Regions from separate parts of the Homo sapiens genome. Here region 1 is linked to region 2. Evidence: fine-mapped QTL for protein levels in blood plasma. A gene starts in region 2. The other region holds a variant in brackets. All regions are shown on one strand. Distances are between the middles of the regions.

What was found. A credible set is the group of variants that fine-mapping cannot tell apart. PIP is the posterior inclusion probability: the model's chance that the variant is causal. Protein levels are from antibody-based Olink assays in UK Biobank. Linkage for the fine-mapping came from a reference panel and not from the study's own genotypes, which makes the PIPs less certain.
Region 1: its variant is the best candidate, but not a certain one, in a credible set for the plasma level of the INHBC protein (UK Biobank, PIP 0.78).

What each region holds. Positions count from the first base shown.
Region 1 is chr12:57,443,900-57,455,283 of GRCh38, forward strand. It overlaps INHBC (inhibin subunit beta C), which reads left to right. Exons shown (of 2, transcript NM_005538.4): 2 at 5,378-8,163. The coding sequence ends at 6,123. Among named protein-coding and RNA genes, the nearest start is that of INHBE, 5.7 kb to the right of the region's middle. RefSeq lists an enhancer at 11,087-11,381. The variant C/T (reference allele first, on the strand shown) is at 6,367.
Region 2 is chr12:57,431,193-57,442,468 of GRCh38, forward strand. It overlaps INHBC (inhibin subunit beta C), which reads left to right and starts at 3,592. Exons shown (of 2, transcript NM_005538.4): 1 at 3,592-4,007. The coding sequence starts at 3,695. R3HDM2-DT (R3HDM2 divergent transcript) reads left to right here. Exons shown (of 2, transcript NR_185976.1): 1 at 1-238; 2 at 2,511-2,743.

The DNA of each region.
Region 1 (11,384 bases), 13 kb after region 2:
TGCCTCAGCCTCCTGAGTAGCTGGGACTACAGGTGCATGCCACCACACTCGGCTAATTTTTGTATGTTTAGTAGAAATGGGGTTTCACCCTGTTGGCCAGGCTGATCTCGAATTCATGACCTCATGACCTCAGGTGATCCTCCCATCTCAGCCTCCCAAAGTGCAGGGATTACAGGTGTGAGCCACCACACCTGGTCTCAACAAGTGTTTATTGAGTGCTTACTAAATACCAAGTACTAGGGATACAATGGTGAGCCATACAGGCACAACCGCTGTTTTCATGGAGCTTACATTCTAGCTGCAGGGAAGAAAGAGGGGTAGGAGAAATACGTAGTAAACAAATGAACGAAGAACCACACTGGACCGGACTTGGTGGCTCATGCCTGTAATCCCAGCACTTTGGGAGGCCGAGGTAGGAGGATCACAAGGTCAGGAGTTCCGGAGCGGCCTGGCCAACATGGCAAAACTCCGTCTCTACTAAAAATACAAAAATTAGCAGGGCATGGTGGTGCATGCCTGTAATCCCAGCTACTCAGGAGGCTGAGGCAGGAGAATTGCTTGAACCGGGTAGGTGGAGGTTGCAGTGAGCCAAGATCGTACCACTGCAATCTAGCCTGGGTGACAGAGCAAGACTCTGTCTCAGAAAAAAAAAAAAAAAGAACCACACTGATTACAGAGCATGATAATGGCTATACAAACAGTTAAGCAGGATGATGTATTAGAGAGATGGAGGCAGAATTGAAGGCTATTTTTATTTTATTTTATTTTATTACGTTTTATTCTATTTTATTTCATTTTTGAGACAGCCTTGCTCTGTTGCCCAGGCTAGAGTGCAGTGGCATGATCTTGGCTCATTGCAGCTTTGACCTCCTGGGCTCAAGTGATTCTCCCGAGTAGCTGGGATTACAGATGTGTTCCTCCATGCCCAGCTATTTTTTATTTATTTATATATTTTTTAGTTATTGTAGAGACAGGGTCTCACTATGTTGCCCAGTCGGTCTCAAACTCCTGGCCTCAAGCAATCCTGCCACCTTGACCTCCCATAGTGCTGCGATTACAGGCATGTGCCACCACGCCTGGCTGAAGCCTGCTTTAGATAGATTAGGAAGGAAGCCTGAAGCCTCTCTGAGGAGGAGACATCTGAGCCGAATGCCAAAAAGAACTCAGTCATTCAAAGATCTTGGAAAGACATTCCAGGGAAAGAGACTAGCAAGTGTAAAGGCTATGAGATAGCTTTATGTTTGGTGAATTTGAGGAACAGAAAAAGGCCAGTATAGGCAGGGTGTAGTAGTTAAGTGTCAAACAAGTTTCCTATTTCAAGGAGTTTAGATTTTATCCAAAGAGCAAGGGGAAGACTTTGAAGTGTTTTAAGCTGAGAAGATAAAACTAATCAGATTTATAAAAAGATCACTGGCTGATATTTGGAGAATGGTTTGGAGAGCAAGAGTGAATCACTTGAGTGAACGAAAGCTACAGTTAAAGAAAAAGATGGTTGTGAGTTGGACTAATGAGTAGTAGAGGAAGTGGGGAGAAGTGAAATTATATTATGAATTAGAAGTAGAGTTGATAAAACTTTCAGATAATTTCAAAGTAGAGGATAAACACAATCAAGATTTTGCCTTAAGCAATGCGTTTATGGGGAGAAGTTTGGAGAAGGAACAGGTTTGGACTGGGGGGATACATTTAGACTTCCTTGTACAGGATTGAGGCTGGGCACATTGACTTATGCCTGTGATCTCAGCACTTTGGGAGGCCAAGGTGAGAGGATCACTTAAGGCCAGGAGTTCAAGACCAGTCTGGGTAACATAGTGAGACCCCCCGCCCATCTCCATGTAAATTTTTTTTTTTTTTTTTTTTTGGAGACAGAATCTCGCTCTGTCATCCAGGCTAGAGTGCAATGCAATGGCATGATCTCGGCTCACTGCAACCTCTGCCTCGCAGGTTCAAGTGATTCTCCTGCCTCAGCCTCCCAAGTAGCTGGGATTACAGGTGCCCGCAGCATGCCTGGCTAATTTTTGGTGGTTTTTTTGTTTGTTTGTTTGTTCGTTTTTTTGAGACAGAGTCTCGCTGTGTTGCCCAGGGTGGAGTGCAGTGGCGCGATGTCAGCTCACTGCAACCTCTGTCTCCTGGGTTCAAGCAATTCTCCTGCCTCAGCCTCCCGAGTAGCTGGGATTACAGGCATGTGCCAACATGCCTGGCTGATTTTTTGTAATTTTAGTAGAGACAGGGTTTCACCATGTTGGCCAGGTTGGTCTCGAACTCCTGACCTCAACTGATCCACCTGCCTCTGCCTCCCAAAGTGCTGGGATTACAGGCGTGAGCCACCACACCCGGCCTAAAAATTTTTTTTTAATTAAAAAAAGAGATTGAAATATCATTGGATGTCCAAGTCAAATATCAGATAGCCACTTGGACATACAAGGCTGGGGCTCAGGGAGAGGTCAGGACCAGATATATATATTTGGAAGTCATCAGCATATAGATGGAATTGAAAGCCATGGAATGGATGATCATTCTGGGAGAGGGTATAGATAGTGAAGAGAAGGGAGCTTAGGACTTTATTTATTTATTTATTTATTTATTTATTTATTTATTTATTTATTTATTTATTTGAGACAGGGTCTCATTTTGTTGCCCAGCCTGGAGTGCAGTGGTGCGTTGATGTCTCACTATAGCCTTGATCTCCCAGGGTCAAGCAATCCTTCCACCTTAGCCCTCCGTAGTAGCTGGGACTACAGGTGTACACTAGTACGCCTGGGTAATTTTGTAATTTTTGTAGAGACAGGGTTTTGCCAAGTTGTCCAGGCTGATCTCACTGATCTCAAACTCCTGGACTCAAGCCATGCATCCACCTCAGTCTCCCAAAGTTCTGGGACAAGTGTGAGCCACCACGCCTGGCCTGACTTCCAACATTTAAAGGTTGGGCCGACAAAGAGGAGCTGTCGATAGAGGAGAAAAAGATAGAGTGGCCACTGTTATAAAAGCCAAGAGAAGAAAATATGGAAGAAGGAGGGAGTGGTTAACTGTGTCAAACACTGCTTAAAGGTCAAGTAAGATGAATACAAATGGTTAGATTTGCTTTGTGGAAGGTGTTGGTGATCTTGACGTGTGCAATTTCAGTAGAGTGGAGGGAATAGAAACCCAACTAAGATGTTCAGTAAGGAAGGTGAGGGATGATAAGAGGAAATTGGGCAGTAGTAATAGGGATACAAAGAAATGCACAGACATTAGAACCATTCTGGTGAGACAAGGTATAGGGGGAATGAAGAAAGTAATCATAGTTTGTTTTTTTTTTCTTTTTTTGAGGCGGAGCCTCGCTCTGTCTCTCAGGATGGAGTGCAATGGTGTGGTCTTGGCTCATTGCAACCTCTGCCTCCCAAGTTCAAGCGATTCTCCTGCCTCAGCCTCCCAAGTAGCTGGGATTACAGGCGCCCACTGCCACGCCTGGCTGATTTTTGTATTTTTAGTAGAGATGGGGTTTCACCATGTTGGCCAGGCTTGTCTCAAACTCCTGACCTAAGGTGATCCACCTGCCTCAGCCTCCCAAAGTGCTGGGATTACAGACGTGAGCCACCACGCCTAGCTGATCATAGAGTTTTTACAGGTGATGAGGGTAGTGGCACCACCAAGAATGAAGAGGGGGTATATAGGAAGGAAAGTAATTATTTTTCAGGTTGAAAAAATTGATTAAAAAAAATATATAGGCCAGGCGCGGTGGCTTACGCCTGTAATCCCAGCGCTTTGGGAGGCTAAGCAGGGCGAATCACTTGAGGTGAGGAGTTCAAGACCAGCCTGACCAACATGGAGAAACCCTGTCTCTACTAAAAATACAAAATTAGCTGGGTGCAGCTACTTGGGAGGCTGAGGCAGGAGAATTGCTTGAACCCGAGAGGCAGCGGTTGCAGTGAGCTGAGATTGCGCCATTGCACTCCAGCCTGGGCAACAGGAACAAAACTCCGTCTCAAAAAAAAAAAAAAAAAAAAAAAAAAAAAAATATATATATATATATATATATATATATATAAAATATATGTGTGTGTGCTTGTGTTTGTATATATGTATGCATACATATATACATATATATACACACATGCATACACACATATGTATTTATAAGATGGGGTCTTGCCATGTTGCCTGGGCTGGTCTTGGGCATGTTGCCTCAGTCTCCCAAGTAGCTGGGATTACAGGCATGCACTACTCCACCCAGCTCTGGGACAAATTGATTTTAATGTGCTGCCAGGACATTCATGTGACAAAAGTAAGTAGTTAGAAATCTAGGCCTGAAGCTTGGTGATTTCCAAATCTATATGTCCGGTCCAAATATGCAAAATGCTCTGGTCTGGGCATACAGATTTGGGAATCACCAACATAAAAATTGTGTTGCTTGGCTGGGCGTGGTGGCTCACGCCTGTAATCCCAGCACTTTGGGAGACTGAGGTGAGTGGATCACAAGGTCAGGAGTTCAAGACCAGCCTGGCCAACATGGTGAAACCCCATCTCTACTAAAAATACAAAAATTAACTGGGAGTGGTGGCAGGCACCTGTAATCCCAGCTATTCAGGAGGCTGAGGCAGAAGAATCACTTGAACCCAGGAGGCAGAGGTTGCAGTGAGCCAACCTCACGCCACTGCACTCCAGCCTAGGTGACAGAATGAGACTCCGTCTAAAAAAAAAAAAAAAAAAAAAAATTATGTTGCTTGACCATGAGTCTAATTAAGAGCTCCCTTAATGTAGACTAGAAGGAAATGAAAGTCCAAGACAGACCTTGGAAAACTCTGATATTAAAGGGATGGTCAGAGAAAGAAAAGCCAGCAAAGAAAACCAGGAAGAATTATAACAGAGTTGTGTCATGGAAGCCAAGAGAGAAAAGATTTTCAGGAAGGAAAGAATTGTCAGCAGTGCTGTCTTAGTCCGTTTTGTGCTGGTGTAACAGAATACCACAGACTAGGTCATTTATAATGAGCAGAAATATATTAACTCATGGTTCTGGTGGCTGGGAAGTCCAAGATCAAGGGGCTGGCATCTGGCGAGGGCCTTCTTGCTTCTTGCTGTGTTATTCCATGGCAGAAGGGCAAAGAGAGGGTGGGGCTGATAATTAAACTTATCCTTTTATAAGGTACCCATTCCCAAGATAAGGGCATTAATCCATTCATGAAGGTGGTATTCCCATGACCCAAACACCTCCCATTAGGCCCCACTTCCCAACACCACTGCATTGGAGGTCCAATTTCCAGCACATGAACTTTGGAGGACATGTTTAAACTGTAGCAAATGCCAAGTGCTATAGACAACTCAAGAATGCTGAGTACAGAGAAATAGTTGGTAGAACTGACAGTCAGAAGGCCGCAATGACTGGGGCTTCTTATGTCCACAGGCCTCTCCACCATCAACCAGACTCGTCTTGATTTTCACTTCTCCTCTGATAGAACTGCTGGTGACAGGGAGGTCCAGCAGGCCAGTCTCATGTTCTTTGTGCAGCTCCCTTCCAATACCACTTGGACCTTGAAAGTGAGAGTCCTTGTGCTGGGTCCACATAATACCAACCTCACCTTGGCTACTCAGTACCTGCTGGAGGTGGATGCCAGTGGCTGGCATCAACTCCCCCTAGGGCCTGAAGCTCAAGCTGCCTGCAGCCAGGGGCACCTGACCCTGGAGCTGGTACTTGAAGGCCAGGTAGCCCAGAGCTCAGTCATCCTGGGTGGAGCTGCCCATAGGCCTTTTGTGGCAGCCCGGGTGAGAGTTGGGGGCAAACACCAGATTCACCGACGAGGCATCGACTGCCAAGGAGGGTCCAGGATGTGCTGTCGACAAGAGTTTTTTGTGGACTTCCGTGAGATTGGCTGGCACGACTGGATCATCCAGCCTGAGGGCTACGCCATGAACTTCTGCATAGGGCAGTGCCCACTACACATAGCAGGCATGCCTGGTATTGCTGCCTCCTTTCACACTGCAGTGCTCAATCTTCTCAAGGCCAACACAGCTGCAGGCACCACTGGAGGGGGCTCATGCTGTGTACCCACGGCCCGGCGCCCCCTGTCTCTGCTCTATTATGACAGGGACAGCAACATTGTCAAGACTGACATACCTGACATGGTAGTAGAGGCCTGTGGGTGCAGTTAGTCTATGTGTGGTATGGGCAGCCCAAGGTTGCATGGGAAAACACGCCCCTACAGAAGTGCACTTCCTTGAGAGGAGGGAATGACCTCATTCTCTGTCCAGAATGTGGACTCCCTCTTCCTGAGCATCTTATGGAAATTACCCCACCTTTGACTTGAAGAAACCTTCATCTAAAGCAAGTCACTGTGCCATCTTCCTGACCACTACCCTCTTTCCTAGGGCATAGTCCATCCCGCTAGTCCATCC[C/T]GCTAGCCCCACTCCAGGGACTCAGACCCATCTCCAACCATGAGCAATGCCATCTGGTTCCCAGGCAAAGACACCCTTAGCTCACCTTTAATAGACCCCATAACCCACTATGCCTTCCTGTCCTTTCTACTCAATGGTCCCCACTCCAAGATGAGTTGACACAACCCCTTCCCCCAATTTTTGTGGATCTCCAGAGAGGCCCTTCTTTGGATTCACCAAAGTTTAGATCACTGCTGCCCAAAATAGAGGCTTACCTACCCCCCTCTTTGTTGTGAGCCCCTGTCCTTCTTAGTTGTCCAGGTGAACTACTAAAGCTCTCTTTGCATACCTTCATCCATTTTTTGTCCTTCTCTGCCTTTCTCTATGCCCTTAAGGGCTGACTTGCCTGAGCTCTATCACCTGAGCTCCCCTGCCCTCTGGCTTCCTGCTGAGGTCAGGGCATTTCTTATCCCTGTTCCCTCTCTGTCTAGGTGTCATGGTTCTGTGTAACTGTGGCTATTCTGTGTCCCTACACTACCTGGCTACCCCCTTCCATGGCCCCAGCTCTGCCTACATTCTGATATAACTGCTTCAACACTAGGGGGTCCTAAAGGCTTTCTATCTTGCTAGTCCCTGGGGCCTCAACATCTCATACTGGTTCCCTTAACTCTGCCTATACCTCTGTAAATAATTCCTTCACTAAGTTCTCTTGATGAAGCAAAAACAGACAGCTGAAAAGTCCTCTATCTCCTACAAGGGCCCTAACTGGCACCCCAGATGACACAGAGCCTGCCTGCTTATGCTGTAGTCTGCCTACTCTGCTGTCTCTTCACATGGTCTCCTCAGAACTGAACTATTGTATCCATCTCACACTTTATGCCTCTTCTTTCTTAGGCACCCCGTCCCTCCATCCTTCCAGAACCATCTTTGAGGTCTCATGGCTAATAAAAACCTAGGCTTTACCTGTTCCCTCTGTAATCCCTCCAAAAGATGAGACAGATCTATGCTTGGTCATCCAGTAAACTGACCAGCTGTGGGCACGCAAGTGTGGGAGGCAGAGGCATGCTCAGAGCTGGCTGCCAGGACCTCTGACTTGCCTTCCTTTCACCCACCCCCAGTGCTCCACCCAGGAGTCCTGCCTGGAAGCTGGAATGGGCAAGGGCTGCTGGAGTGGGACAGGGAGAAGAGGAAGGCCTGGATGAGGAGAGGGTGGCATTTGCTCTGAGACTGGGTCCTTTTTAGACCTTTGCCCGTCCTCCCCCACATCTCCTCCCTTTGGCTGGACAGTCCTGAACCATGAGGTCGATAATGTCTGCAGCCCAAGGCCGAGTTTGCGCAAAACCCATGTGTTCTTTGGTAAACGTGATGTCTGTGTTTGCTCAGTTTATGACCCCCTCCTATGAGGGTAAGAGGTCCCTGAAATAGGAACCCTAGAGGAGAAAGTCTGAAAAGGACTGCCTGGGGGACTGTAAATCTGAGCTTGAGGGCTTCCTGAGCAACCCATGGAAGTTATCCCACCTTTGACTTGAGGAGACCTTCATCTAAGGAGAATCTAAGGAGGCCTTCTGGTGTCTCCCCCACACATCCCCGACCCCCAGATCTAACCTCCTTCCCAATTACAGCTTAGTCTCCAGGGCTAGGACTGGGGTAAAGCAAAGTGAGTCATTCACCTGGGGGGGCTAAATTTTAAGGGGGTGGTGAACAATTTATTAATCAAGATAGGACTTTAATGCAATATTATTTTAAAGTCAAAATTAATGCAAAAAATCCATGATGAACAAAATAGCCTACTTTTAAATAAAAACAGGATCAGCATTATTCCCTTTCTTTTTTGGCTCTGTCTTTTGTAATAAGGGGAGAGAGTGGGTCTGTCTTCTTCTAAACATTTTCTTCTAGAGCTTCCTAGCTCCTACCTCTGGACCCCTTCAGGCTTTTCTCATTTGAGCAAGATAACCACTCCCACTTCTTCTACTTCCTTACCCACCCCCAAGCCTGTCGCTATCCCCCAGCCCCCAACCAGGTTGGTGGTAGGGCAGGCAGTGAGGCAGATGGCTGGGGTATTTATAACCCAGGAGCACTTCTTGGGAAAAGTGACTAAGATGCTAAGAGCGTATTTATAGCTGAGCTCTGACGTAAGTGTCAGTGGGGAGGTAGGGCCAGGCCAGGCACAGCAGCAAGCGGGTGGGAAGAGCTGGAAACTGGGGGCATCTGACAGTGAGGGTGGGGAGAGGTGGGGTCAGTGACTCCTGCAGCCACTTCTTGTCACTTCCCCTGACTGCCTACTGATACCAACAGGTAAGCCGTCTGAGGCACCACCATGGATAGATACCTCCACTTTGCTGACCAATGTTCCAGACCCGAGGGGGTAGAGGGCTGTCATTTCCCAGCCCAACCAACAGAATGGTTGCTGGGAGCTGGGGAGAACACTGGACAGAGCTCTTGAATGTGTTTCAGAGCTTGGGGAGAAATGCAGGGTGGACAGGAGGGTCTAATCGTCTCAGTGCGCCCCCACCCCACTCCACCCCCACCAAAGAGTGCCCTGAGGTTCTAGGAAGAGCCTGGTACATCACCAAGCTCCATTGCCACGTGTTTGTGTGATGAGGTCCAAAACCAAAGGTAGCAGTGATGTGGATCCTGAAGACAGTCTCTCTTCTCTGGCAGTGTGATGGGGAAAGAACAAAGGAACCAGCTTGTCCCTGTCTCTTGTGGGGGAGGCAGCGTCCCCAGAGTGAGAGGTCGAGGGGCACTCCTCATCACTCCATTCCCCAGAGCTGCCCCTTCCCTGTCCCTGGGAAGCTCCAGCCAGCTACAAGCCAGCTGCTGTCCAGAGGCACGGCACTGCCACATGGTGGACACTGGTGGTACTGAGGTCCAGCCTTCCAATTAGGAACCCTGTCGCCTAGATCTAATAGTCTCTCTTGACAGCCCCCATCATCTAAACAGAGGGGAGATGAGCAAAGTGGAGTAAAGACACATTTCCAAATCACACCCACTTCCCCCACAGCTTTCTCCCCATCAAGCTTCTTGGAGAAATTGGGGCATAAGGAGAAAAGCTAGCATGAGGCCCACCTTCATGAATTCAATGTGGAGGGGTCTGGGTCCCCCCCCATTTAAAGCCAGTGAGGACTGGGTGTGGTGGCTCATGTCTATAATCCTAGCGCCTTGGGACGCTGAGGTGAGAGGATCGCTTGAGCCCAGGAGCTTGAGACCACCCTGGGCAACACAGCAAGACCCTGTCTCTACAAAAGAATAAAAAATAAATTAGCCTGTGTGGTGTGGTGTGGTGTGGTTGGTGTGGTGGCACGCACCTGTAGACTTAGCTACTCTGGAAGCTGAGGTGGAAGAATCACTTAACCCAGGAGGTCAAGGCTGCAGTGAGCTGTGATCAGGCCACCACACTCCAGCCTGGATGACAGAGTAAGACCCTGTCTCAAAAACATAAAAAATAAAATAAAAAATAGGTCAGGTGCGGTGGCTCATGCCTGTAATCCCAGCACTTTGGGAGGCCGAGGCGGGCAGATCATGAGGTCGGGAGATGGAGACCATCCTGGCTAACACAGTGAAACCCCGTCTCTACTAAAAATGCAAAAAACTAGCCGGGCGTGGTGGCTGGCACCTGTAGTCCCAGCGACTCGGGAGGCTGAGGCAGAAGAATGGTGTGAACCCGGGAGGTGGAGCTTGCAGTGAGCCGAGATTGTGCCACTGCACTCCAGCCTGGGCGACAGAGCGAGACTCAGCCTCAAAAAATAAAATAAAATAAAATAAAATAAAGACAGTGAGAAAATGTGGTCAGGAGGGCTGAGACTGGGAACCAAGACTGCTGTATTTGCCTTGCTTTGTTGTCAAAAGCTCTTAGAGCTCCCATTTTCTACCCCCATTAACAGGCCTGAAGGGTGGTGCGGTGGCTCACGCCTGTAACCTCAGCACTTTAGGAGGCTGAGGCAAGTGGATTGCTTGAGCCCAGGAGTTCAAGACCAGCCTGGGCAACATAGCGAGACCCTGTCTCTGTGGGAAATTTAAAAATTAGCCAGGTGTGGTGGTGCGCACCTGTAGTCCCAACTACTAAGGAGGCTGAGGCAGAAGGATTGTCTGAGCCCAGGAATTCAAGGCTGCAGTGAGCTATGATTGTGCCACTACACTCCAGCCTGAACAACAGATTGAGACCTTACCTCAGTAAAATAAAATAAAATTTAAATTTTAAAAATGTAAGAAAAAAAGGAGGCCTGGCACTACTTCTAGGATGCCCCAAATTTAGGCAACTCTCACAGTCCCTTGAAAGAGAAGTGGCAGCTGGGTATAGGCCCTCCCAAGTGTCATGCCCCCTGACAGTCCTGATGGACTCTGCCCTGTGTAAGATTGCATCACCACCACCACCACCTCTCTGGGCTTCCCCAGACATCACAGGAACACGTTCCCCGCCCCAACCCCCGCCGGCTCTGGCCCTCCTCCACATCATGCTCCACATCATGCTCCAGGCCAACTGGACTCTGGGCGGCCAGCACAGGCAGGGTCAGGGGGTGACTTCTGTGCCTCGTGGCACTGCCACCTGGGCCTGAGCAAGAGGGCTCCATTCTCCTACCCGCCCAAACCCTCATCCCTGTCCTAGCCCCAGTGCTAGAAATAAAGAGACCAGAATTTTCCTTCTGGCCTAAGGGCCCCAGAGGAATACCCACTGGAACTCACAGCTGCCTCATGGAAACTGCTGCAGCAGTGGTGAAGCTAGAAAGACTAGAGGTATGAGGGAAAATTGCCCTTCCCCACCTGGCTCATAAGGCGTTCCCTCCCCCAAGTCCCAGACCTTGGGGACTGAGCATGTGAAATCATCCTCTTTCTTGCATCATGCGTGTCCACATTGCACCCCCCCACCCCCATACCCCTACTTCAGGCCCAGTCACCATGGCCAGATGGTGAAACCTGAGCTGATGGGGAGGAGGACCTCCACCCCCTGCAGGGGCCTGATGGGCAGCACAGCTGGCCAATCCTGGGACTCAGAGGGTAGGTCGGCTGGCTGACCACTAGGTTTGGAAGACCCAGGCAGC
Region 2 (11,276 bases):
CTCCTCCTTCCGCGTTACCTGTGTCAGGACACCAATCCGGAGTCACTGGGAGCCTCGGTCCTCCTTAAACCCTTCAAGTCTGTCAGATAGAATACCCTGGATTTCAATATAATACTAATAGTGATCATTCTAAAGTAATTTCCATTTACAGAGCACTTTCACTTAGGGCAGTAACTCCTGTACCAAAAGAACGTACACTCGGTATTTGTTGCATACGTGGATAACTATAGTTGAGCAGGTAAATGTCCATTTTACGTAAAGATGAAAAAAACCGACCTAGGAGGAACTCAGTCTGTCCTATTAAGATCACATTCTTACCATCATCCCCTCTCTAAGATACAGTTCTCAAAAATCGTCTTAAATGTCCAGCCTCCCCCGTTTTGTCCATTCTAGGCAGAATCAATTTAGTTATTGATTATGTGTGTGTGGATAATTTACTGACCAAACTCCCTCAAAGAAGCAATGTAGTCTTTTGTAGAATTCGACCATTAAATATTTACCTTGTGACAGAAACTGCGGTAGGCAAAAAAAGTCAAATAATTATAGTACAATTTAAGTGCTATAATAGAAAGGTTTAAATGTGCTATGGAAACACAAGGAACAGCAATTCGTTCTTAGCGGTAAAAGAGATTGAGTAAGTTACAGAGAAACTACAGGTGAAACTCCAGCTAATCTTGAGACTATAAATAGTTCACTAGAGAGGTAAGAATGGAGATTCCAGCAAAGTCATAGAGGCATGAAGTTCATCTTTCCTTCAAGGATGAGCAAGTTCCAGGTTGGTTGGCGTTTTTTGTTTGTTTGTTTGTTTGTTTTATTTATTTTGAGATGGGGTCTCGCTTTGTCACCCAGGCAACTAGATTGCAGTGGTGCAATGTCGGTTCACTACAACCTTCACCTCTCAGGTTCAAGTGATTCTCCTGCCTCAGCGTCCGGAGTAGCTGGGACTACAGGCACGCACCATCACACCCGGCTATTTTTTGTATTTTTAGTAGAGACGGGGTTTTGCCATGTTGGCCAGGCTAATCTCGAACTCCTGGCCTCAGGTGATCCACCCGCCTCGGCCTTCCAAAGTTCTGGGATTACAGGTGTGAGCCACCTTGCCCAGCCCTCTCTCCTGGTCATCACTGCCTCCTGCCCCCAAATTCTCTCAACCCTCTAGAGAACAACAACGGGGGAAGAAAAATACAACTGAACTGAACTGATCTAACCTGCCACTTTTCACCACGATTTAAACTTTTTGTCTTGGCCGGGCGCAGTGGCTCACACCTAGCACTTTGGGAGGCCAAGGCAGGTGGATCATTTGAGCTCAGGAGTTCCAGACCAGGCAGTGATGACCAGTAGGAAATAATAGCTAATATTTGTATTATGTGTATGTAAGTACAATATAAAATGTGTAGCATTCTACATCTATTGTTAGTATCAAATCCTCAATACAATAGGTACTATTATTATACCTGTTTTATAGATGAGGAAACCTGAGGCACAATAATGAAACCAAAGTTCCAGATTTTTTTTTATTTTTTTTGAGACGGAGTCTTGCTCTGTCGCCCAGGCTGGAGTGCAGTGGCATGATCTCAGCTCACTGCAACCTCCACCTCCCGGGTTCAAGTGATTCTCCTGCCTCAGCCTCTCAGGTAGCTGGGACTACAGGCATGTGCCACCACGCCCGGCTTATTTTTATTTTATTTATTTTTTTATTTTTCTTTGGTATTTTTAGTACAGATGGGGTATCACCATGCTGGCCAGGCTCGTCTCGAACTCCTGACCTCAAGTGAACTGCCCACTTCAGCCTCCCAAAGTGCTGGAATTACAGACGTGAGCCATCACGCCCAGCCTACAAGCACATTTTTAAGGGCAAAAAAGAAGGAGACAGGGAGTAGACTGATACAAAGTTGTCGGGTATTCTTGTTGGTTTACAGAAATAACATTGATTAGTGATTGGCTATAGATTGTTAAGCTATAGGATCTAGGTTATAGTGTCCAGTGCAGCATTATTATGTTAATTTATAGTTACTTGTGGCAATAGCAAGCAATTTCAAGAGATGAATACATAGCTCAAAAGCAGGAAGTAGGACATGATTGCCCTCTCATTTTATTTATTTATTTTTTATTTATTTTTTTGAGACAGGCTCTCACTCTATTTCCCAGGCAGGTGTGCAGCAGTACAATTACAGCTCACTGCACCTTCAACCTCCTGGGCTCAAATGATCCTCCAGTCTCAGCCTCCTGAGTAGCTGGGACTACAGGAACACACCACCACTCCCAGCTTTTTTTAAATTTTATTTTATTTATTTATTTTTTATTTTAGTATGGATAGGGTCTGGCTATGTTGCCCAGTCTGGTCTTGAACTCGTGAGTTCAAATGATTTGCCCGCTTTGGCCTCCTAAAGTGCTGGGATTATAGGCTTGAGCCGCCATGCCTGGTCTGCTGTCTCATTTTAATGTCTCTCTGAGCCTGATAATCTTCAAAGACTTGCATTTCCCAGATTAAAATTGTTTTATTTTCTCAGTGCCATGACACAGAATGAAAGCCTGAAATGTTTCTGAGACAAGTGCAAGAACTGAAGAACAACAACCAAGAATACCTGGATTTAAAACCTATACTCCTGGCCAGGCACGGTGGCTCACGCCTGTAATCCCAGCATGTTGGGAGGCCGAGGCGGGTGGATCACAAGGTCAGGAGTTCAAGACCAGCCTGAACAACATGGTGAAACCCCGTCTCTACTAAAAATACAAAAATTAACCAGGCATGGTGGCACGCACCTGTAATCCCAGCTACTTAGGAGGCTGAGGCAGGAGAACTGCTAGAACCCGGGAGGCAGAGGTTGCAGTGAGCTGAAATTATGCCACTGCACTCCAGCCTGGGCGACAGAGTGAGACGCCATCTCAAAAGAAAAAAAAAAAAAGGGAATCTCAAAACTTCTTTTCCAAGACAGAAAAAAACCCCAAAGGGTGAGCAAATCTGGAACTCAAGCCCTTTCCCCACCTTAGGAGTTCCCTCTGAGAGCATCAAAGACATGGCTAGAACACTGTGCCTCCCTTCCCTTAACCTTCAGACTTCATAGTTTTGAGACCTCTTGGGCAAAACTCAACCAGGGCTAACAAATAAGGCTGGATTGAGAACCCCAGGAGGGAGGATGGAGGGATGGGGATGGGCTTTGAGAAACACCAGGCAAAAAAGAATGCAACTCTCAATTGTTCATGCGTGACAGTGAGCTAAAGTGCCTTGCCAATGACCCCTTCTTGTTTGAGAGTCTCCCTTTAACATTCTTTCCCAAAACCTGTGATCTGTCCCTTTCCACCATCCCCAGGATTCCCAGCAAGGGTAGAGATCTGAGGAGGAATTTAATCTCTCACCTTTGAACCCCAGGCCTGGCAGCTCACATGGATAACAACTGTCTCCCAACATTGGCCCAGGGACGTGTCTTTCCCTAAACAAACCAACCTCTCCTCACATCCCCCACTCTGTACTTTCACTGACTATGCGTTGGCAGATTCTGCCAAGTTCTACCTGTAACTGGCTTCATTTTCAAGTCAGACGTTTGGCTGCTGCTCTGTCCCCTGCAACAAGGAGCCATGCCAGCTGGACACACACTTCTTCCAGGGCCTCTGGCAGCCAGGACAGAGTTGAGACCACAGCTGTTGAGACCCTGAGCCCTGAGTCTGTATTGCTCAAGAAGGGCCTTCCCCAGCAATGACCTCCTCATTGCTTCTGGCCTTTCTCCTCCTGGCTCCAACCACAGTGGCCACTCCCAGAGCTGGCGGTCAGTGTCCAGCATGTGGGGGGCCCACCTTGGAACTGGAGAGCCAGCGGGAGCTGCTTCTTGATCTGGCCAAGAGAAGCATCTTGGACAAGCTGCACCTCACCCAGCGCCCAACACTGAACCGCCCTGTGTCCAGAGCTGCTTTGAGGACTGCACTGCAGCACCTCCACGGGGTCCCACAGGGGGCACTTCTAGAGGACAACAGGGAACAGGAATGTGAAATCATCAGCTTTGCTGAGACAGGTGGGTTCCTGATCTGTAGCTCTTCCCCAGAACTTGACCCCTCAAGGAAAGGAAAAGTTTCCTCGCCAGACTTACCTCTGACTCCTTCCCCAAAAACCATCCAACCCCTGCTTCCCACAGGCTATAATCTCCTTACCCAGGTGTCCCGACAACCCCCACATCCCTCTGGGGTCACTCTGGTAGCTCAGACCTGACCAATAGGCAGCTGGAAAGCTGGTAAATTTCACTTCTTTTGAGATTGGCTGCCGTCATCTCCTCCGGCTCCTCTCTCTGCAGGCCCCACAAACCCACAGGCTGTGGTGTGAGCCCATCCACTTCCTGGGCCTGTACACAGCGACTGGGAGGTGGGAGTCTCTCCTTTCTCTGGCCCCAGGATCTAGCCCCTCCCTTCCCCTCTCCTCCAGATGCCTCATTTGAGTAAAAGAAGAAAAAATAAAACACCAGGACTGCAATACCTCACCATATGTCATGTTCCCATATATACCTCAGGTCCCCATATCACAGAGAACAGGGTCAAAATGGGACTCAGAAAGATGGATAAAGGGGCTGGGCACAGTGGCTCCTGCCTGTAATCCCAGCTACTCAGAAGGCAGGAGGATCACTTGAAGCCAGGAGTTCGAGACCAGCCTGAGCAACATAGCAAGACCCTTTTTTTTTTTTTTCCTGAGACGGAGTCTTGCTCTGTCACCCAGGCTGGAGTGCAGTGGCGTGATCTCGGCTCACTGCAACCTCCACCTCCTGAGTTCAAGGAATTCTCCTGCCCCAGCCTCTTGAGTAGCCAGGATTACAGGTGCCCGCCACCACACCCAGCTAATTTTTGTATTTTTAGTAGAGACTGGGTTTCACCGTGTTGGCCAAGCCGATCTCAAACTCCTGACCTCGTGATCCTCCCACCTCAGCCTCCCAAAGTGCTGGGATTACAGGCGTGAGCCACCGCGCCCGGCAACCCTGTCTCTTTTTTAAAAAACTTTTTTTTTTTTTTTTTGAAAGAGTCTCACTCTGTCACCCAGGCTGGAGTGCAATGGCATGGTCTCAGGTCACTGCAACCTCTGCCTCCTGGGTTCAAGCAGTTCTCCCACCTCAGCCTCCCGAGTAGCTGGGACTACAGGCGTGTGTCACCATACCCGGCTAATTTTTGTATTTTTAGTAGAGATGGGATTTCACTATGTTGGCCACGCTGGTCTCGAACTCCTGACCTCGTGATCCGCCTGCCTCGGCCTCCCAAAGTGCTGGGATTACAAGTGTGAGCCACTGTGCCTGGCCTTTTCTTTTTCTTTTTTTTTTTTTTTTTTTGAGACAGAGTCTTCATCTGTCACCCAGGCTGGAATGCAGTGGTATGATCACAGCTCATTGCAGCCTCAACCTCCCAGGCTCAAGCTCAGGTGATCCTCCCACCTCAGCCTCCCAAGTAGCTGGGACTACAGGTATGCGCCATCATGCCTGGCTAATTTTTTTTATTTTTTATTTTATTTTATTTTATTTTTTGAAATGGAGTCTCGCTTTGTCACCCAGGCTGGAGTGCAGTGGCGCGATCTTGGCTCACTGCAAGCTCCACCTCCTGGGTTCACGCCATTCTCCTGCCTCAGCCTCCCGAGTAGCTGGGGCTACAGGCGCCTACCACCATGCCTGGCTACTTTTTATGTATTTTTAGCAGAGACAGGGTTTCACCGTGTTAGCCAGGATGATCTCGATCTCCTGACCTCGTGATCCTCCTGCCTCGCCCTCCCAAAGTGCTGGGATTACAGGTGTGAGCCACCGCGCCCAGCATATATTTTTTTACAGAGACAAGATTTCATCATGTTGCCCAGATTGGTCTTGAACTTTTGGGCTCAAGCAATCCACTCGCCTCGGCCTTGCAAAATGCTAAGATTACAGACATGAGCCACCATCCCCGGGCTAAAAATAGCTGGGTGCGGTGGAGTGCACCTGCAGTCCCAGCTATTTGGGAGCCTGAGATGGCGGATCATTGAGCCCAGGAGTTTGAGACTGCACTGAGCTGTTTGCACCACTGCCCTCCAGCCTGGGCAACAGAGTGAGACCCCCATCTCTAAAATTAATTAATTAAAGAAAGATAGATAAAAGAGGACAAGGAAGAGAGATAGTTACTTCCATAGACAGGGGAATAGTTGGAGTATATAGTGAGCAGATCAGGAATTCTAAGCCAGGACTCTAGAAAATGCAAATTGAAGGCCGGGCGCGGTGGCTCACGCCTGTAATCCTAGCACTTTGGGAGGCCAAGTCGCGCAGATCACAAGGTCAGGAGATCGAGACCATCCTGGCTAACATGGTGAAACCCCGTCTCTACTAAAAATACAAAAAAAATTAGCTGGGCATGGTGGCAGGCGCCTGTAGTCCCAGCTACTCTGGAGGCTGAGGCAGGAGAATGGCATGGACCCAGGAGGTGGAGCTAGCAGTGAGCCGAGATTGCGCCACTGCACTCCAGCCTGGGGGACAGAGTGACACTCCGTCTCAAAAAAAAAAAAAAAGAAAGAAAGAAAATGCCAATTGAGCCCTTTGCAAGCTTTTTCTTAGGTCTGGAAGACCCTTCCCATTTCTGGCCCCTCATTCCCTCGTTTTTGTGTTTGTTTGTTTGTTTGTTTGTTTGAGATGGAGTCTCATTCTGTTGCCCAGGCTGGAGTGCAGTGGCACAATCTCAGCTCACTGCAACCCCCGCCTCCCGGGTTCAAGCCATTCTCCTGCCTCAGCCTCCCGAGTATCTGGAACTACAGGCGAACACCACTAAACCTGGCTAATTTTTGTATTTTTAGTAGAGACGGGGTTTCACCATGTTGGCCAGGCTGGTCTCGAACTCCTGACCCCAAGTGATCTGCTCGCCTCAGCCTCCCAAAGTGCCAGGATTACAGGCGTGAGCCACTGCACCCACCCCTACCTGTTTCAAGACCCTGCTTGAACTGGAGCTAGATAGCCTGGGCTCAGATTCTTGCTCAGCCATTTATTAGCTGTTTGACCTAGTGGTTAATAGTTTTCTCATGTGTTAAATGGGGATAATAAGAGGATAGTTGAGATAATTAAATGGGCTAATACAGGTAAAGTACTTTGAATGTTAAAGTGGAAGGGAGCAGGAACTAGAGAGTAGACTTAGTGCCTGCCCATGGAGGAAAGGGACAAGGCAAATCTCTGGAAACTTTTTATAAAGGCACTAATTCTATTAATGAGGGCTCCACCCTCATTACTTAATCACCTCCCAAAGGCTCCACTTCCTAATACCATCACATGGGGGTTATGATTTCAACATATGAATTTTGAGGGAATGTAACAGCCTCTCTCCATGAAGCCTCTTATCATTCAATAGTCTATCCCAAGTTTCTTTAGAGAATGGTGGCCAGATTCCAAGAGGATAATTTCAATGTGTAAATTATTCTCAAACTTCTACATACACCCTGCTTGCTAATGTCCCATTGACAAAGCAAGTCATTGTAGCCAAGCCTAGAATCTATCACTGTGAGATGGAACTAGACGAAGGCATGAAAGCCATGAGGTAGTGTTTACTGGGGACTACCAATCTAGCAGCCTACTAAAGTCTGCCCTCTGACCCCTAACAATTTATATCTCTCCCACAAGCAAAATACAATCATCCTCTCCCAGCTACCCACATCAAAATTTCATCCCTTTATGGCATCAGGATCGGGCTAAAGTTCAGCATCTCATCACCTGAATTAGGTGCAAATATAGGTGAGGCTCCTCTGGTACATTTCTTCAGGTGCAGGGGCCTTCAGTGATGTCCTAGCGCTGGCTTATTCAGACTTATGAAAGCTGATTGTGAACATCTTCTCCCAACTCAGCATTCAGTGATGTCACATTAGCAGCTAGAAATCAGCCATGGTGGGCGAATTTGTAGTCTTATAGAAATTGACAAAGACTACAAATCAGGGCTTTTGATTTTTTTCCCTGGAGACCAGTTATTAAACATTTACCAGCATACCACTGTCTGCGTCCTAAAAATACAAGTTCTCTACCTCCCACGCACTTAACATACAATGCTGAGACAGGGACAGGATAAACATAATAGATATTCCTGTTCAAAATGGGGTATGGGAGAATAGGAGACACAGAGCAGTCACTGATCCATAAAACTTCTTATATTCAGCCAGGCAAATATCTAGGTCCACTCCAAACCCAGAATTCCCTTGGTTAGTTAGGGCCTGGTTCTGCTCCCTGGTATTTCCCATTGCTCACCACTGCTCTCCTGGACTTCCAAATCCACCCTCTCAGCCCTTGGCCTCTACCTGCTGAGGTGTCTTTCCTTTTAAATAGGAAATAATCTGTGTTTGTGGCTGAGTAGTTTTCTCAGCCTACTTTCTGCCCAGAGTTGGGGGCCCAGAGACCCCTTTTTATTTTGAATTGTCCCTTTTAGTCCAAACTGGTGCTGCTTTCAGTATTAAACTTCTCTTTAAAACTCTGTGGACCCTGTAAATAATAAATTGTAGTCTACTCAGTTACACAGAAGGCACCACATTCTATCAAGACAGACACTTCTTTAGGCTACAAGTCTGTGTCATGGGATGACACCTTTAAGATGTTTAGAAGTGCATTTGTCTAGTTGTGAGGGTTGACAGAACATCGTCTTAAATTTTAGATCTCAAAAAAAAATGTTAGATCTTAACAAGCAAAGCGTTTTTTTGGTTTGTGTTTTAGAGTTGGTCTTGCTATGTTGCCCAGGCTGGAGTATAGTGGCTATTTGCAGCCTCAATAATATTGCCTTATAGCCTCAAACTCCTGGCCTCAAGGGATCCTCCTGCTTCAGCGTCCTGAGTAGCTGGGGCTATAGGCATGTGTTCCCATGACCAGCTAACAAAAGGTTTTATAGCTGACCCTTTATTTGTTTTGATCTTCACTCTGAGTCCCTGTATTACTGGAAATGCCCTGGATTTGATTTTTGCCCTGAGGTAATTTCTTACTTTAAGAACCTTTTGTCAGAGAGAAAGAATGAAAAAGAATTTTTGTCATTATTTTTCTTTTCTTTCCTCTACATGTACAACATGAAGTAAAAGGTTTTGTTTTGTTTTGTTTTCTGAAAAATTAGCAACATAGAGTAAGCGGTTCTATTTTTTAATTTAGCAAGTCCTTTTAGAAATATTTTCTCTAAATTCTGTTTGAAAATTGAACAGTGCCTTTTTTTTTTTTTTTTTTTGAGACGGAGTCTTGCTATGTCGCCAGGCTGGAGTGCAGTGGTGCAATTTTGGCTCACTGCAACCTCTGCCTCCCGGGTTCAAGCGATTCTTTTGCCTCAGCCTCCTGAGTAGCTGGGACTACAGGTGCACACCACCACACCCAGCTAATTTTCGTATTTTTAGTAGAGATGGGTTTTCAGCATGTTAGCTCGGATGGTCTTGATTTCTTGACCTTGTGATCTGCCCGCCTCAGCCTCCCAAAGTGCTGGGATTACAGGTGTTAGCCACCGCACCCAGCCACAGTTCCTTTTTTAGTTCATCTCTCTCCCGAAATGCCTTATCGTAGGCAACTAAAATATACCAACTGGCATTTTCAGCATTCTGCCTGGAAATATCATTAGCTAAATTCACAACTTTGTTAGATATCTTTCCTGGCTTCTAAGTTACCACAGGTGATAGCCAATACACAATACAAGTTCCCCTTTCTTCAGCTTCCAATAGCAATTTCCTCACTGTTCTTCCTTCCTTTACTAACAGTTTCTTCCCTACCCTTCTAACTTCTGCCTGCCACTCATTCCCGAAGCCGGTGCAACTGACCAAGCACAGTGGCTCATGCTTGTAATCCCAACACTTTGGGAGGCCAGGGTGGGAGGATCACTTGAGGCCAGGAGTTTGAGACCACCCTGGTCAATATAGCAAGATGTTTCTTTAAAACAAACAAACAAACAAACAAAACAAAAAGCCGGGTGCTGTGGCTCACGCCTGTAATCCCAGCACTTTGGGAGGCCAAAACGGGTGGATCACCTGAGGTCAGGAGTTCGAGATCAGCCTGACCAACATGGAGAAACCCATCTCTACCAAAAATACAAAAAATTAGCCAGGTGTGGTGGTGCATGTCTGTAATCCCAGCTACCCGGGAGGCTGAGGCAAGAGAATTGCTTGAACCCAGGGGGTGGAGGTTGCAGTGAGCCGAGTTCGTGCCATTGCACTCCAGCCTGGGCAACAAGAGTGAAATTCCATCTCAAAAAAAAAAAAAAAAAAAAAAAAGCCAGGTGTGGTGGTACATGCCTGTAATCCCAGCTACTGGGGAGGCTGAGGCAGGAGAATTGCTTGAACCCAGGAGGCAGAGGTTGCAGTGAGCCAAGATCACGTCATTGCACTTCAGCCTGGGCAATAAGATCAAAACTCCGTCTCAAAAAAAAAAAAAAAAAAAGTCAATGCAACATATTTTAGGTTTTTGTGATGGTAGCACCCCACTTCTGATACTAATTTTTGTTTCAGTTACTTATCAATATAACAAACCAGCCCAAAACATAGAGGCTTAAAACAACACATTCATTATTTCTCATGATTCTTTTTTTTTTTTTTTAGATGGAGTCTCACTCTGTTGCCCAGGCTGGAGTGCAGTGGCACAGTCTTGGGTCACTGCAACCTCCATCTCCAGGGTTCAAGAGATTCTCTTCCCTCAGCCTCCTGAGTAGTTGGGATTATAGGTGCCCGCCACCATGCCTGGCTTTTTTTGTATTTTTAGTAGAGACAGGGTTTCACCATGTTGGACAGGCTGGTCTTGAACTCCTGACTTCAAGTGATCCACCCACCTCAGCCTCCCAAAGTGCTGGGATTACAAGCATGAGCCATTGCCCCCAGCCACTCTCATGGTTTTGTGGCTTGACTGTGCTTATCTGGACAGTTCTTCTGCTCCATGTGGTGTAGCTGAGGTCTCCCATGCAACTTCATTTGGGGACTCAGATGGGACTGGAACATATAAGATGGTCTCTAATCCTCCAAAGTCTCTCTCCACATGACTTCTCCTAATTTAGTAGTCTAGCTCAACTTCCTTTAAAGCACTGCGGCTGGCTTCCAAGAGTGGAATGCCTCAATATGTAAGTACTCAATAAACACCATGCTTGCTAATGTCTCACTGCCCAAATCAAGTCACATGGCTAAGCCCAGAATTAATATGGAAAGGGACAGCACAAAGTCATGAATACTGGGAGGTGTTGGCCTTTGGGGCCAACAGTGTAATAGTCTACTACAGCCCCTGTTGGTCTTGTGTTTGCCTGCCATAACTGGAGTGACTTAAAAGGTACTAACTATAGGGTGCTTTGTGACCTAGCAAGGAAAAGATTAGTTGGGC